Homo sapiens: one gene and its partner. The protein of the gene in region 1 purifies or fractionates together with the protein of each later gene. This does not show direct contact. Each region holds a gene or a part of one and is shown in the gene's direction. Other genes may lie near its edges.

Region 1 (7,073 bases):
GACTCAAACTACTGACCTTTAGGTGATCAACCTGCCTCAGCCTCCCAAAGTGCTGGGATTACAGGCGTGAGCCACTGTGCCCAGCCACTTCTTCTTTTTGGCCAGGCTAGACTCAAGCTCCTGACCTTCAGGTGATCAACCTGCCTGAGCCACACACTGTAATCCCAGGTGTGAGCCACCGTGCCCAGCCACCTCTTTTTTTTTTTTTGAGATAGGCGTGTCTCACTGTGTTGCCCAGTTGCCCAGGCTGGTCTTGAACTCCTGGCCTTAAGCCATCCTCTGGCCTCAGCCTCCCGGAGTGCTGGGATTCCCAGCGTGAGTCATGGCGTCTGGCTCCAGGCTTTTTGTTTTAATGCACACGGGCGTTTCTGTGGCTACTGGGTTTGTTTGGATGGTGTTACTTGCTACAAGTAGACTTTGACCTTGTGGCCCAGTCCAGCTGTCATTCATTGTGTTCTTTAAAGTCTGATTTGTGCATCGTCCATAGTAGCAGACTCCTGAGCAGCCCTCCTCTCAGATTCCTCTGCTTTCTGCTGGGATGCTCAGCCCTGTCTAAACATTTGTGGCATCTGTGTGTGGAGCAGTGGTGACCAAAAGACTAAAGGCAAGAAGGAGTGAGTGAGAGAGTTGGAGAGCTCATGGCCGGCGCTGTCCCTCCAGAGGTGACAGTCAGTTGTTCAGTGTGGATGCTTATGTTTGGCTCTGCTCTCTGTACTGAGGGCATCCTCATCCTCTCCCTCTTGGGCGCATTGAGGCAGCTGGGGAAGATCATCATTCCTCCTGCCCCCACGGTCCCCAGCGCCAGTGGTGGACTCTGTACCTTTCCACACCTCCCTGTCTGCCACCCCACCCGCGGGGAGCTGTGCGTCTCTGAACGTCCATCCAGCTGTGGCCCAGGGCCTGGGGCCCAGTGAATGCCCGATGGGGATTTGCTGAAGACGTGAGGGGTTGTTTCACAGCTGATCTTGAGCCTGTGCTGTTCTTATTCCACTATCCTTCCTGTTAGTGCTGCATGGTGGAGCCATCTGGAAGCTTCCATAGGAAGAGTTTTCTTGGTCTGAGTTCCCTGGCAGAGAAGAAGGGCACTACCAACAATGACAAGCCAGGTGCCTTGAATAGGTTTCTGAAGATGCCTTATGGGCGGGGTGTCCTCACCTACGGAGCCCAGTTGGGCGGTGTCTCCTGCAGGGGCCTTGCTTCGGGGTGTCCTGCTTGCCATCCAGGGCTGTCCTCAGAAGCCAGCTGTGGCTGTCCTGCCTGGCCTTATCCAGGCTATGAGATTCTCTCGTCAACTTGCGGCTTGCTGAGTCTGGGATGGGGGTGAAGGTGGCTCCGTGTGGGCTTCAAATCCGGACTGTGCTGCACAGGGCCCTTCCTTTTTTGTCCTTGGGTAGGTCCTGTTAGGATGTGAACCCACTTGGGGGCCACTGCAGGCAAGCAGGACAGTCTACTGGGTGTTCCTGCCTGGACAGGGTCATTGGCAAGTCCCCAGCCCCTGCCCCTGCCATCAGGGCTGCTGTCTGAGATGTGTAATGTTCTGTGAGACTATGCTAAGGCCATGCCTGGCATGAGTCTTGGGATGGACACAGTGGCAAGCAGGATCAGGCTGTCCTGGCCTTGCTCCGGACACTGCTGTGCACCTTACAGAGCAAGGTCGAGGCAGTGGAGTGAGGAGGTGGAGAGGGCACCTTACAGAGCAAGGTTGAGGCGGTGGAGTGAGGAGGTGGAGAGGGCACCTTACAGAGCAAGGTTGAGGCGGTGGAGTGAGGAGGTGGAGAGGGGAGCTGACTCTGCTGGGGTTGTGCTTTGGCAGGGCTGGGGATGTGCTTTGGGAGGGTTTGGGGGCATATTTTGGGGCTGGAGGTGTGTTTTGGGTAGGGCCGGGGGCATGTTTTGGGCAGGGCTAGGGGTGTGTTTTGGGCAGGGCTGGGGGTGTGTTTTGGGCAGGGCTGGGGACATGTTTTGGGCAGGGCTAGGGGTGTGTTTTGGGCAGGGCTGGGGGTGCGCTTTGGGAGGGTTTGGGGGTGCGTTTTGGGCAGGGCTGGGTAGATACCTGGGAAGAATCCTGGATGCTGGTGAGGCCTGAGCTGTGTCTGGAGAGCTGAGTGGCCTTAGCTGGGGAGGGCAGGAGAGGCAGCTACTCCAGGCAGCGGGAGGCCCAAGGGAAGGCACAGCAGTGCTGGACTCCTAGTAGGCAGGTCTGACTCGGGTCAGCCTGTGAGGGTCTTGGGAGGCAGGGTGAGGCCTGGGCTTTTCTGATGGCTGTTGGTGCTGAGCAGGGAACCCGGGGCCCAGGCTGAGGTTTGCCGAAGAGGTCTGGAGACAGGGCTGGGTGGAGCAGTGCCACACCGAGGGCCTGTGTCTGGAGCCTGCAGGGGCCAGGCTCCATGCCTTGGCACTGTGTGCTGGGTGCCTTGTGGTGGCTGCGCTGTGGGCCCCCTCGATGGATTGGTGGGCTAGCCACGCAGCTGAGTGGACTGGCAGCAGCTGCTGCTCATTGTCCTGGCAACCCTGGGCTTCAGGCTGCAGGCTCGAGCCCTCCCCAGCATGGAAGCCAGTGAGCAGAGCCAGGCACTCACGCTGGCCTGGGAGCCTCTGGCCCAGTGCTGTGGCCAGATCAACTGTTGTTTTCTTCCACAGTGGAAGATTGCCTCGTTTTCTCCCTCTGATTTGCCCTGTGGGGAGGGCTACAACCCAGCCCTGACTTACGTAACATCCAGGTAGGGACACAGCATTGCCACATCTTAGCCGTGGGACCCTGGCCATGTCACTTGGCCCCTCCAGGAGCCCTGCCTTTCCATGTCATTAGTCTGATCCTGCAGCCTCCTGGGAGGTGGGCAGCATTGTGTCTGTCCCAGAGACTTGGAATCTCCGGGCGTCTTGGGGGACATCACCTGAGGGGTGTAGGGAAGAATTCCCAAGGTGCACAGAGGGGCTGTGGAAGGTCAGGGAGTGCAGCCCCAGGGTAGGCGGAGCTGCCTCTCTCCTGTGAGACCCTCGGGCTGCCTCGCCACTGCCACACAGAGGGGCTGTGGAAGGTCAGGGAGTGCAGCCCCAGGGCAGGCGGAGCTGCCTCTCTCCTGTGAGACCCTCGGGCTGCCTCGCCACTGCCACACATAGGGGCTGTGGAAGGTCAGGGAGTGCAGCCCCAGGGCAGGCGGAGCTGCCTCTCTCCTGTGAGACCCTCGGGCTGCCTCGCCACTGCCACACATAGGGGCTGTGGAAGGTCAGGGAGTGCAGCCCCAGGGCAGGTGGAGCTGCCTCTCTCCTGTGAGACCCTCGGGCTGCCTCGCCACTGCTACACACATCACAGAGCTTGCTCTACCTGGTCAGCCATGGCACGGCCAGCTCGCACAGTAGACCTGAGCGTCAGGCTGTCTTGGATTCTGATTATAACAACACCTCCTGCTTTTGACCACAGGGCATCTGTCAGGCACCTGCTAGGCTCTTCCTGCTCCTCAGATCAGGAAACTTCCCAGCCTTGGGAAACTTACCTGAAGTCACGGGGGTGGTAAATGCCCAGCCATGACTTGAGCCCTGGTGTTCTCACCAGGATTCTGATCAGAGGCAGAAATCAGAGGCATTGCTCACCGTTCTGCTGCCCGGCCCACCTGGCGATCCTGCCCTGCTGCTCTCCAGGGGGACCAGGCTGGAAGCAGCTTTACAAACAAAAATTCCCTGTTGAGTTAGAGGATGTTATTAATAATGGCAATTACTGCACTAATAAAGACCTAATCCTGTCCCTCCCTTCCATCTTGAGATGATGTTCCAGAGCAGAGTGTGGCAGGGGTTCACAGGCTTGAAGGAATCCAGGTATGGAGGTTGAGATTTCTGATGGAGAGGGGAGGTGGGCGGAGCTCAAGATTCTTGTTCCCATAAGGCTTGAGGCTAGGAGGTCGGGGTGGTGTGAGCCCCCAGAGGCTGTGGTTGCCTGTGGATGGTGTCTAGCTGAGTCAAGCGTTTCCAGGGCTTTGGGGCCAGGTGCGCGGGTGTGTGCGTGTGTGTGTGTGTGTTTGTGTTTATCGCCTGAGCCTGACCCTGGGTGTCATCTGAGGGGTGCACACTGAACCTGTACCAATGGGAAGCTGGGCATTGGAGGGGTGATGGTGAAGGAGTTGAGTGTGGCATGGTCTGGGGAAGATGAGGGCCAGTGTTCTGAGGGCATGGGTCATCAAGGGTCCTGTCAGAGAGCCACGGACAAAGAGAGCCACAGGCGTCTGCCCTGGACAGAGCCACGGACAAAGAGAGCCACAGGCGTCTGCCCTGGACAGAGCGGGCCACCTTGGCTGCCCTCCATCTGGACCCATGATCCATTCTAGCGAAGTATTTGGAAGGGGACATGTTTTTAAACCAGAGCCCAGAATCAGTCTCTCCCAACATTAGAAAGAAGCAACACAACACAGCAGCCTCCTTCCTGGGCTGGCTGCCCTCGGTGCTAATGAGGAGCTGGATTCCTTGCTGGGAGTCTGACCTCCTTCCCGCTGCTGCTCACTTGTGGGAAGGTGCTGATGAGCGTGGTGTGCTGGGAGTGGGCGCAGGAGGCGGAATTGCAAGTGGGGAGAACCGTTGCTTCTGCTGCTTCGTGGTACCTGGGCGTTTTCGCCGGTCACAGCCTCCAGCCTGGGCCCCTTAATTCTGCATCTTGCTGAGGGGTAGATCCGGCGGTGCCGCCCCCTGGCGACAGATCTTCCTGGCAGCTCCAGCCTCACTGTCACTTGGCATCTGCGGTGCTCCATGGGCTTTCCAGCCCCTGGGAAACCTGCTGCGCTGACTCCGCAGGCTGCCTGCAGCCTGCCCCCCGTGTCTTTGCTGGGGCCGCCCCTCTGCCTGGAGTGGCCCCGACTGGTGACCTCCTGGGCTGTTGAAGTCTCCGCTGGGGGACGCCGTCAGGAGTCAGCCCCATCCCCTCATCCTGAGGGCCTGGTGCCTCCCGGGGAGGGCAAGGTAGAGAGAGGGCTGCAGATTTTGGGAAGTGGCTCTGCGTGGCTTGGGCCTTGTTGCATTGCAGTCATTAGCTTTCCTCCTCCAGGGCCAGGACCTTGTCTTTTCTGTCTCTGTGGTCCCAGCACAGGAAAATGCCCACAGTGGGCACAAGATAACCATGGGAGGAGCTGAGCCTCACCTTTAGGCCGCTCAGCCTTTGATGCACGGGGCCGCCCCCCTTCCCTGCCAGGAGCAGGAAGTGGTGGGGGACAGGAACAGCGATGCTTCCTGCAGGCGGGCAGGTCCTGAATTCCCAGAGCAGCCTCCAAGGTGACACCATCACCCTATCTTACGGAAGGGAGACCGGGTCACCTGCTTGCATCTCTCCTTATGGAGACTTGGCTTCTAGGGCCCTGCACCCTTAGCGCACCTCACTGTCCCCAGGGCGCAGGCACAGCCTGGGATGCTGCCAGCAGAGGAGACTTGGCAGGGCACACAGGGACGTGGACAGGCACGCTGGCAGCTGGGGCGTGGGGAGTGCTGCGGTGACCCTGCGGACCATCCCACAGCTTAGAGCTCAATGGCATGGTGGCCCTGCTGCCCCTGGTTGGAGCAGGGAGGTGGGAGTTGTTTTCTGTCCAACCTGAGAGGTGATGTAGTTTCCCAAGACCATGAAGCAAGCACAGAGCAGAGCTGTGGGAGGAATCCCGTGGGGTCTGGCCGTAGAAACTGTGGCCTGTCATTCCCACACTGCGCCATGGGAAATGGGCCCAGGACTGTGGGGCACTTCCAGGTGAGTCGATTTGTGCCTTGGAACCCCGGAGGTTCTAGTCTTAGACCTGCTGCCATCATCGTCCCTCCCTTTACCCAGAGCAGCTCTGATGTGATCTGTTTCACTTGGTGTTTTCTGAGTACGGTTGTGTTTGGAGAAAAGATTCTGTAGCTACTGCTTTCACTCCCCAGTTTACAGATGGGGAGTAAGAGGTCCGAGCTGTCCGGTCCACCCGCCCTGCTGCTGTGGGGTGCCCACACCCTGGTTCCTTCAGTCTGGCAGGGTGGTCCGATGGGCAGAGCACCTCCCGTCTTTCTGCGTATCTGCCCCCAAAGCTGTTATCTTGACACCTTAACCGGTGTGAGAGGGTATGGAGGCCACTGGAGGCCGCAGGCATAAGCGTGGGGCCCACGGGCAGCCTGCAGGCTTCTGCCTTAGCCAGGGCAGGAGGGCCTCCCAGCCCAGCAAGGAGTGAAGACGGGCAGCCAGCGTGGGCAGAGCTGTGATTGGACGGGTGGAGAATGTAACCTGTATGGTTTTGCTTTCGTAATGAACATCCCTCAGGTTTTAGTAGCCTGAAGCAACAAAGGTGTGTGTTCATTGGGGATTCACAGTTCATTGGCCAGGAGGAACCACACGGCTGCAACCACAAGAGGCCAGGAAGTGCCCCACACTCCCCGAGGGAGGAGAACTGGAAGTCTCGGTTGAGCAGCACGAGGGATGCCACACCAGCACGTAGCCAGGCAGCTTGTGCTGTGAACCGGCCACCTTTGCTGCCCAGGCTTTCCCTCGATTTTCCTCCTGGGCTTCCCTATCTGCAGTAGGAGAGGGTGGGCTGTGTGACACTTCACCTCCCTCTAGGCCTCTGCTCCAGGAGGTGGTGGAGTGGACGGGGCAGGTGCTCGGGGAGTCAGACCAGGGAGAATGTGGCCTCTGCTCTCTCAGCACCTTCGGGCGTGGCGTTTGGCATCTCAGGATCTTTTTGTAAATTAAACTATTGTGACCATTGTAAATTCACATACAGTTGTGAGAAATAATACACAGATCCTGTGCACTCTTCACCCAGTTTTCCCCGTGGTAGCTTTGTGCAGAACGAGGACAGTAGCACAGCCAGCGGATTGGCCGACGCGGCCGCCATGCCAGAGGTTTCCGTCATCACTCAGAGGAGCCCTGTGTCGGTGCCCGTTTCAGCGAAGCCTACCTTGCTTCTGCCATGAACCCTTCCTTAACTCCTGGGAGCCACCAGTCTGCTCTCCATCTCCGTAATGTCGTCAGTTGAAGCGAGTCGTAGAAATGGAATCTTGCAGTGTGTGGCCGGGGATTGGCTTTTTCTATTCGCCATCGTTCCCCGGATGGTTCTCAGGGCTGCTGCAGGGGC
Region 2 (7,999 bases), on another chromosome or scaffold:
TTCCTTTTTACCAAGCAGACACATTTTGTTTGACTTAGCTTGGCATTCTTTCAAGTCCAAAGCTGTAACTAGTCACAACAAGTAAATGTAGTGATTGAAAATGGGCGGGGCATGGTGACTCATGTCGTAATCCCAGCACTTTGGGAGGCTGAGACAGGAGGACCCCTTGAGGCTTGGTGTTTAAAACCAGCCTGAGCAACATGGTGTGACACTTGTCTCTATTAAAAAAATTTTTAAAAACAAAACAGTCGTATTAAGTGGAAGGCTAATAAAAGTCTGAATTACAAATACTTTTAAAAGAAATGTAATTTTATTGCTGCTTTCTAAAGACTAGGAGCCTAAGCAAAGTATACCAGGCCTTAGGAGACAATTATGAATCAAAATACATAAATTTTCTCTTAAGATATATTTTAAGTATGTATCCTCTATTAATTGTATTCCTGTTTCTTTGCTGGGAAAACTTTAGAGAGTACAAGTAACTTTCAGTTTTTCCCTTGTCCAAATTATAGTCTTCACATGTATGAAAACCGAAAGACTTTTTTGTGTGCTATTTAAGTAGCTACTTTACATGCAATTCAGCTTTTCAACTAACCAAGCTGTTATTAAAGGAGTTTCTCCCCAGAAACCAATCTTCTACCTGTATTAGGTTCAGTGGTTTGAATTAATAAATGATCATGGAAGGACCTAAGGAAGTTAAATTGAGTTATCTGCTCAGCCATAGTCCAAAGCTACAAGGAAAACAAATTGAATTTAAAAAGAACAAGAAAAACATTTTAAATGTTTTTAAGGTTTTACCCAATGACAAACCTATTTCCCTAAATGTTGTTCCCAAATAGGACTTTAAGGATTATTATTTCAATGCCCTCTCTTTTTTCTTTATGGAAAATTTGGGAAATTGAGAACCAACTAGTTTAAATACCTTGATCAAAGCCATTTAGGCAACACCAGTACCTCATCAGTTTGTGCTTCGGTTTCTCTGTAAGCTGAGGTGATTAGTTCCTGTCCAGAAACGTCACAGAGTGGTTAGGGCCAAATAAAATTCCGAGGGGGGCCAGGCGCAGTGGCTCACGCCTGTAATCCCAGCACTTTGGGAGGCCGAGGCAGGTGGATCACTTGAGGTCAGGAGTTCGAGACCAGCCTGGCCAAACCAACATGGTGAAACCCTGTGTCTACTAAAACTACAAAATTAGCTGGACGTGGTGGTGCACACCTGAAATCCCAGCTACTCAGGAATCTGAGGCAGGAGAATCGCTTGAACCCAGGAGGAAGAGGTTGCGGTGAGCCGAGATCGTGCCACTGCACTCCAGCCTGGGCAACAGAACGAGACTCCGTCAAAAAAAAGAAAAAAAAAATCCAAGGGGGGTTAATACCAGCTACTTGGTAGGCTGAGGCAGGAGAATCGCTTGAACTGGAAGGTGGAGGTTACAATGAGCCGAGATCGCACCACTGCACTCTAGCCTGGGCGACAGAGTGAGATTCCATCTTAATGAATAAGTAAATAAGTAATAAAATTCCTAAGGGGAGGCTTGGTGTGGTGGCTCATGCCTGTAATCCCAGCACTTTTGGAGGCTGAGGCGGGTGGAGCACTTGAGGTCAGGAGTTCAAAACCAGCCTGGCCAACATGGTGAAACCCTGCCTCTACTAAAATAGAAAAATTAGGTGGGCATGGTGGTGAACACCTGTAATCCCAGCTAGTCGAAAGGCTGAGGCAGGAGAATCGCTTGAACCCGGGAGGTGGAGGTTGCAGTGAGCCGAGATTGCAGCACTGCACTCTAGCCTGGGCAACAGAGTGAAACTCTGTCTCGAAATAAAATAAAATTCCAAGGGGGAAGGCATCAGACGTAGTAAAGTGTGAAGCAGCATGTAAATGATTCATTAATGTTTGGGAAGTTTCCTGAAAGACATTTGGTACTTTCCTTAAACCTGTTGATAGGTGGTGGGGTTCCCCTTTGTGCCTCTAAGCAGTTTTTAGGAATTAGCAAGGAGTTCAAAGTAGAATTTGAGAAAGGCTGTTGTAGGATAGCAGGAAGGCAAGATGGGGTGGGAGATCCTGTAATAGCTAAGATCTCTTTGCCTCTAGCATAGTGCTGAAGAAGGAGGGTTTAGGAGTCAGAGCCAGCTCTGAAGCCTGATTTGTTAATTACTAGTTGTAAGACCTCGGACAACTCAATTAACTTCCTGCACCTTTATTTTCTTATCTTTAACATGGATACAATTTAATGCTTTCCTGTGGTTCATCACCTGTGGTTCAGTTGCATGGTCTCCTCTCTACAGTGGCCTTCCCTGACTATAGCATCTGAAGTGACCCCTCCCAGCCCGTTGTATCAAATGGGCTTGCCTTAGTCATAGCACTTATCAGTATCTGAAATGACGTTACTTTTTCTGCTTATAGATTTAGTATGTTTCTCTCTTAACAATATAAGCCCTTTGAGGACAGGTACTTTGTCTGACTGTATTCACTGTGCTGTAAGGGTGCATTGTACAGAAGAATGCTCATAATGCCGGGTGCTGTGGTTCATGCCTATAATCCCAGCACTTTGGGAGGGAGGCTGAGGCAGGAGGATCACTTGAGCCCAGGAGTTCAAGACCAGCCTGGGCAACATAGTGAGATCCACGTCTCTACAAAAAAATGTAAAAATTAGCTGGGCGTGTTGGTGCACACCTGTGGTCCTAGCTACTCCGGAGGATGAGGTGGGAGGATCACTTGAGCCTGGGAGGTCCAGGATGCAGTGAGCTTTGATTATGCCACTGCACTCCAGCCTATGTCACAGGGTGAGACTCTGTCTCACAAAAAAAAAAAAAAGCTGGATAATAATATATATATTTTTAGTTTTTATGGGTACACTGTAGGTGTTTATATTTATGGGGTACATGAGATATTTTGATAACAGGCATGCAATGCATCATAATCACATCAGGGTAAATGGGTGTCCATGACCTCAAGCATTTATCCTTTCTTTGTGTTACAAGCACTCCAATTATACTCCTTTAGTTATTTTAAAATGTACAATACATTGTTGTGGACTGTAGTCACCCTGCTGTGCTCCCAAATACTAGATCTTATTCATTCTAACTCTATTTTTGTACCCACTAACCAGAATGTTCGGTATTTGTTAATGAACATGTTATGACAGGATGTTTTAGAAGAAAATAAAGAAAAAAAGAAATTCCAGCCAAGCATGGTGGCTTGATTTTATTTATTTATTTATTTTGAGATGAAGTCTCCCTCTGTCTCCCAGGCTGGAATGCAGTGGCGTGATCTCCACTCACCGCAACCTCTGCCTTCTGAGTTACATGGCTCACGCCTGTAATCCCAGCACTTTGGGAGACTGAGGTGTATTGCTTGAGGTCAGGAGTTCGAGACCAGCCTGGCCAACACAGTGAAACCGTGTCTCTACTAAAAATACAAAAAATTAGCTGGGCGTAATGGTGGGCGCCTGTAATCCCAGCTACTAGGGAGACTAAGACAAGAAAATCGCTTGAATCTGGGAGGCAGAGGTTGCAGTGAGCCGAGATCGCACCATTGCACGCCAGCCTGGGCAACAAGAGGGAAACTCTGTCTCGAAAAGAAAAAAATTATTTTTTAATTTTAATTTGTTAGTGAACAATTAGGGTTGCTGTGAGAATTGTGCCTGGCACACACAGCCATTTAAAAATCACGATCTTCAGGCAGTGTGTGGTGGCTCACGCCTGTAATCCCAGGACTTTGGGAGGCCGAGGTGGGTGGATCACCTGAGGACAGGGATTCGAGAGCAGCCTGGCCAACATGGTGAAACCCCGTCTCTACTAAAAATATAAAAATTAGCCGGGTGTGGTGATGCGGGCCTGTGATCCCAGCTACTCGGGAGGCTGAAGCAGGAGAATTGCTTGAACTCAGAAGGCAGAGGTTGCAGTGAGTGGAGATCACGCCACTGCATTCCAGCCTGGGAGACAGAGGGAGATTTCATCTCAAAATAAATAAATAAACAAAATCAAGATCATTTAACAAATACATATATTGTACTTACTAAGTTCAAATTTCTGTTCTAAACGTTTTTACAAATGCTGTTAAGTCATTTAGTCCTCTGCATAATGTCGTTTGTTTGTTTGTCTGTTCTTTAAGACGGAGTCTTGCCCTGTCGCCTAGGCTAGAGTGCAGTGGTGTGATCTCGGCTCACTGCAACCGCCACCTCCCGGTTTCCCGTGATTCTCCTGCCTCAGCCTCCTGAGTAGCTGGGATTACAGGTGCGTGCCACCACATCCGGCTAATTTTTTGTATCTTTAGTAGAGACGGGGTTTCACCATGTGCCAGGCTGGTCTTGAACTCCTGACCTCGTGATCCACCCGCCTTGGCCTCCCAAAGTGCTGGGATTACAGGCGTGACCACCGCGCCAGACCCATAATGGCGTTTTATAGATGGGGAAACGGAGTCATAGAGGCTAAACAACTTTCCCAAGACCACACAGTTAGTAAGGGGCAGGACTAGGACTCAAAGCCAAGTTTATGACCAAATTCTGGTGCACTACGTTCTCCTGCTTCTGGAGAAGATAATGATGCTGAAGATTCTACTTTTGGTGTAAAGGAGTAGGAAGGGCACGGGGCACTGCTAGCTTCAGTGGGCCTGAATCTTTGTCTTTCCTTCTGATTTGGAGAAAGTGCAAGAATGGGAAAATGCAATCGAAGTGAAGGAGAGGCCGGCGTATTTTCCTGAAATGCGCGGCCCGCAAGCCCAAACCCGTTTCCCGGGTGTCCAGGCAGCGTTCTGCAGCATCTCCAATGCCCGCCAGCCCGCCGCAGCCCAGCGCCCGGCAGCCGGCGCCTCTCAAACCCCCTCCGGCCAGGAGCCTTCGCCGCTTGGCCGCGCCGCGCCCGGCCTGGGAAAAAAGTTTCCAAACGACGCTGCTCTGCGCTGATTGGCCGAGGCGGACGCGGTACCGTAGAGCAGCAGCCAATGGGAGGCGCCGACCGCAGGCTCCGGGGCGGGGGCGGGGTCCGGAGGGCCGGGGCCGCACCGCCCTTCGCAGCCGCCTCTGCCGCCGCCGCCGCGTTGGCCTCGCCGCCCCTGCTCGGGTAAGTGAGGCGCTGCGCGGGGCTGGGGTCGGGGTGGCTGTCCGGGGACCTCCACCGCGGCTGAAAAGCTCCTCTGCCCCGCCCCAGGATCCCGGGACCCCGGGCCACCGCCTGGCAGGGACCCCTACGCCCCTCGCTTGCGCGTCGCTTCCCGGCCGCCTGGACTCCCCCGGTCCCTGGGCTCCAAAATCCCGCCTCCCTGGAGCCTCCCGTCCTAAAAAGTTAGGCACTGAGTGCCTTGCCACCGGTGCGTTCCTCGCGCTGGCCCCTCGCCCTTGGCAACTTTGTTTCTCTTTCTGCGTTGGTCTCTCTCCCACCCCGTTGCCCTCTTCTCCTTCCGGGACTTCCTGGGTGGTTAAGCCTTGCCGGTCCCCAAACCCCGCTGCCAGGCTCCATCCTCTTTCTCCTCTTCCTTCCTCCCCATACTCCTCTCCTAGATGACCCTCGTTTCTTTTCTCTCTCTCTCCTATTCCTCCATCCTGCCACCCGCTTCTCTGCGACCCCAGACCCCTCGATTGCAGCGTTGCCCCTGCCCTCACACCCACTGTCCCGCCCCTGCAGGCCTCTTTCCAAAAACCCACCCTGCTCCCTCCCTCCGGGAACACGTTTGGGGCAGTCTGCTCTCCGCTTTGCTCCCGTCTCTGCCGCAGGACGGTTCAGGTTTCTTCTGACAGCACTTTGGGGAGGGATTGGGTAAAGGACGAAAATGCTTATTCCGCAGCTTGAGTGATGGCTGGGCTCACTGAGGACCTGAGTCTCTGAGGTCCTGGGAAACCCCGCTGTCACCTTGACACCGCTTTTGGGGAGGCGACTTTATCTTCTCCGAGCCATCTCAGGCTTTCTGCCTCCTGAGGGCCTGAGCTTCCTTGATTGCTTTGTCCGTGGTTACTACCAGGTTGTGCCTCTTAATTTCTACTTTGAGCCTCAGGCCCCTTTTAACTTTCTAAAGAAAAGGCCTTTGCAGCACGACCTAGGCAGGTTCATCATTTTTAGTTTTGTTATAGTGTATTCTAGCATAGGATGGCATTTTAGGACATGGGTCGGGTGTTTTGAAGATTAATTAGATCCCAGCTACTCCTAAAGCCTCTTGTTACCCGACCACCCCAGCCTCCATCACCTCGTTGGTATACAACCCGTTTTTTTTTTTTTTTTTTTGTTTTTGTTTTTGAGACAGAGTCTCACTCTCGCCCAGGTTGGAGTGCAGTGGTGCGATTTTGGCTCACTGCAACCTCCGCTTCCCGGGTTCAAGCGATTCTCCTGCCTCAGCCTCCGGAGTAGCTGGGACTACAGGTGCGTGCCACCACGCCTGGCTAATTTTTTGTATTTTTAGTAGAGATGGGGTTTCACCGTGTTAGCCAGGATGGTCTCGATTTCCTGACCTCGTGATCTGCCCCCTCGGCCTCCCAAAGTGCTGGGATTACAGGCGTGAGCCACCGTGCCGGCCTACAACCCATTTTGAGCCTTTCCTCTTAGTGTGTGTTTTGTGTAGGATTAAATGCAGATGATCTGTGCCGCTGAAGTCTCAGGGGCCTGTGATTCATATATTTTATCCCATGTTGGATAACAGTTTATTAACTTGACTTATTTTTGTTTCCAAAGTGTGTTATTTATTATTTATTTATTTATTTATTTTGAGACGGAGTCTTGTTCTTGTCCAGGCTGGAGTGCAGTGGCATGATCTCGACTCACTGCAACCTCAGTCCTCCGGGTTCAAGTGATTCTTCTGCCTCACCCTCCTGAGTAGCTGGGATTACAGGTGCGTGCCACCATGCCCGGCTAATTCTTAGTAGAGATGGGGTTTCACCATATTGGCCAGGCTGGTCTCAAACTTCTGACCTCGTGATCTGCCCACCTCAGCCTCCCAAAGTGTTGGGATTACAGGCATGAGCCACTGCACCCGACTCTATCATTATTATTATTTTTTATGTAGAGGCAGAATCTTGCTTTGTTGCCCAGGCTGGTCTCAAATTCCTGGGCTCAAGCAGTCCTCCTGCCTTGGCCTCCCACAGTGCTGAGATTACTTGCAGGCATGAGCCACTGCATGCAGCCCAAAGTGTGTTCTTTTGCCTTAGAATGTGAGCCGAGAATTGACACTCCTTTTCCTCACAAGGTAATTTCCTAACATGAGCATTCCTGTGTACAGAAAGTTTGTGCCTGCAGTTAGTACTACACGTGCACCTCGTGCAATGGATGTGGGTGCTTTTTGTCTGCCTCCTTCAGCAGTGCCCAGCACTTAGTAGGTATTCAAGAAATGTTTGAAAAGGGTTGGAGGAGGCAAAACCACAGTAGGAAAAATTCTTTCCCTGTCACTTGGTTCAGTAGAATAAAATTATCCTGGAACAATAGCTATTTTACTTTTTGTCCAAGTTTTTGTTTGTTTGTTTTTTGAGACGGGATCTCACTCTGTCGCCCAAGCTGGAACACAGTGATGCAATCACAGCTCACTGCAGTCTCGACCTCTCAGGCTCAAGCAATCCTCTTGCCTGAGCCTCCCAAGTAGCTGGGACTAAAAGCACATGCCACCATGCTTGGCTAATTTTTAAAATTTTTTGTAGAGATTGGGGTCTCACTATGTTGCCCAGGCTGGTCTCGAACTCCTGGGTTCAAGCGATCCTTCCGCCTCAGCCTCCCAACGTGCCGGGGTGGGAGAGAGCCACCGCGCCTGGCCTAAGCTTTTTAAAATCTCTAAAGCGATCTATGCTTACTGTATATATGTGTATGTAGTTTACCTTAAAGCAAGGTGTCAGGTACAAATCCACAGGGCTTGCTTTACCCCCATTCTGGTGCATCCTCCAGACCCTTTTCTATTCTGTGTACAGAGAGAGGGAAATAAACAAAAATGGGCACCCATTTTTAACATATCCTGAGCTTTCTTCCATATTAGTACTTACAGTTCTTAACAACTGCATCGTTTTCCATTCAGTCCTCTGTTGACATTGAGGTTTCCAGT

Evidence for each region. The genes of interacting proteins can lie anywhere in the genome.
Region 2: the proteins of TSNARE1 (region 1) and NDE1 purify together in Homo sapiens (affinity purification with mass spectrometry; 3 studies listed by BioGRID and IntAct, with this or other methods). This does not show direct contact.

The regions. Positions count from the first base shown.
Region 1 is NC_000008.11:142,393,175-142,400,247, reverse strand, and holds part of TSNARE1 (t-SNARE domain-containing protein 1), read left to right. Parts: intron 1-7,073.
Region 2 is NC_000016.10:15,645,246-15,653,244, forward strand, and holds the start of NDE1 (nuclear distribution protein nudE homolog 1), read left to right. Parts: upstream 1-4,999; 5' UTR 5,000-5,049; intron 5,050-6,770; exon of another isoform or gene 6,771-6,805; intron 6,806-7,999. UniProt on the Homo sapiens protein: Required for centrosome duplication and formation and function of the mitotic spindle. Essential for the development of the cerebral cortex.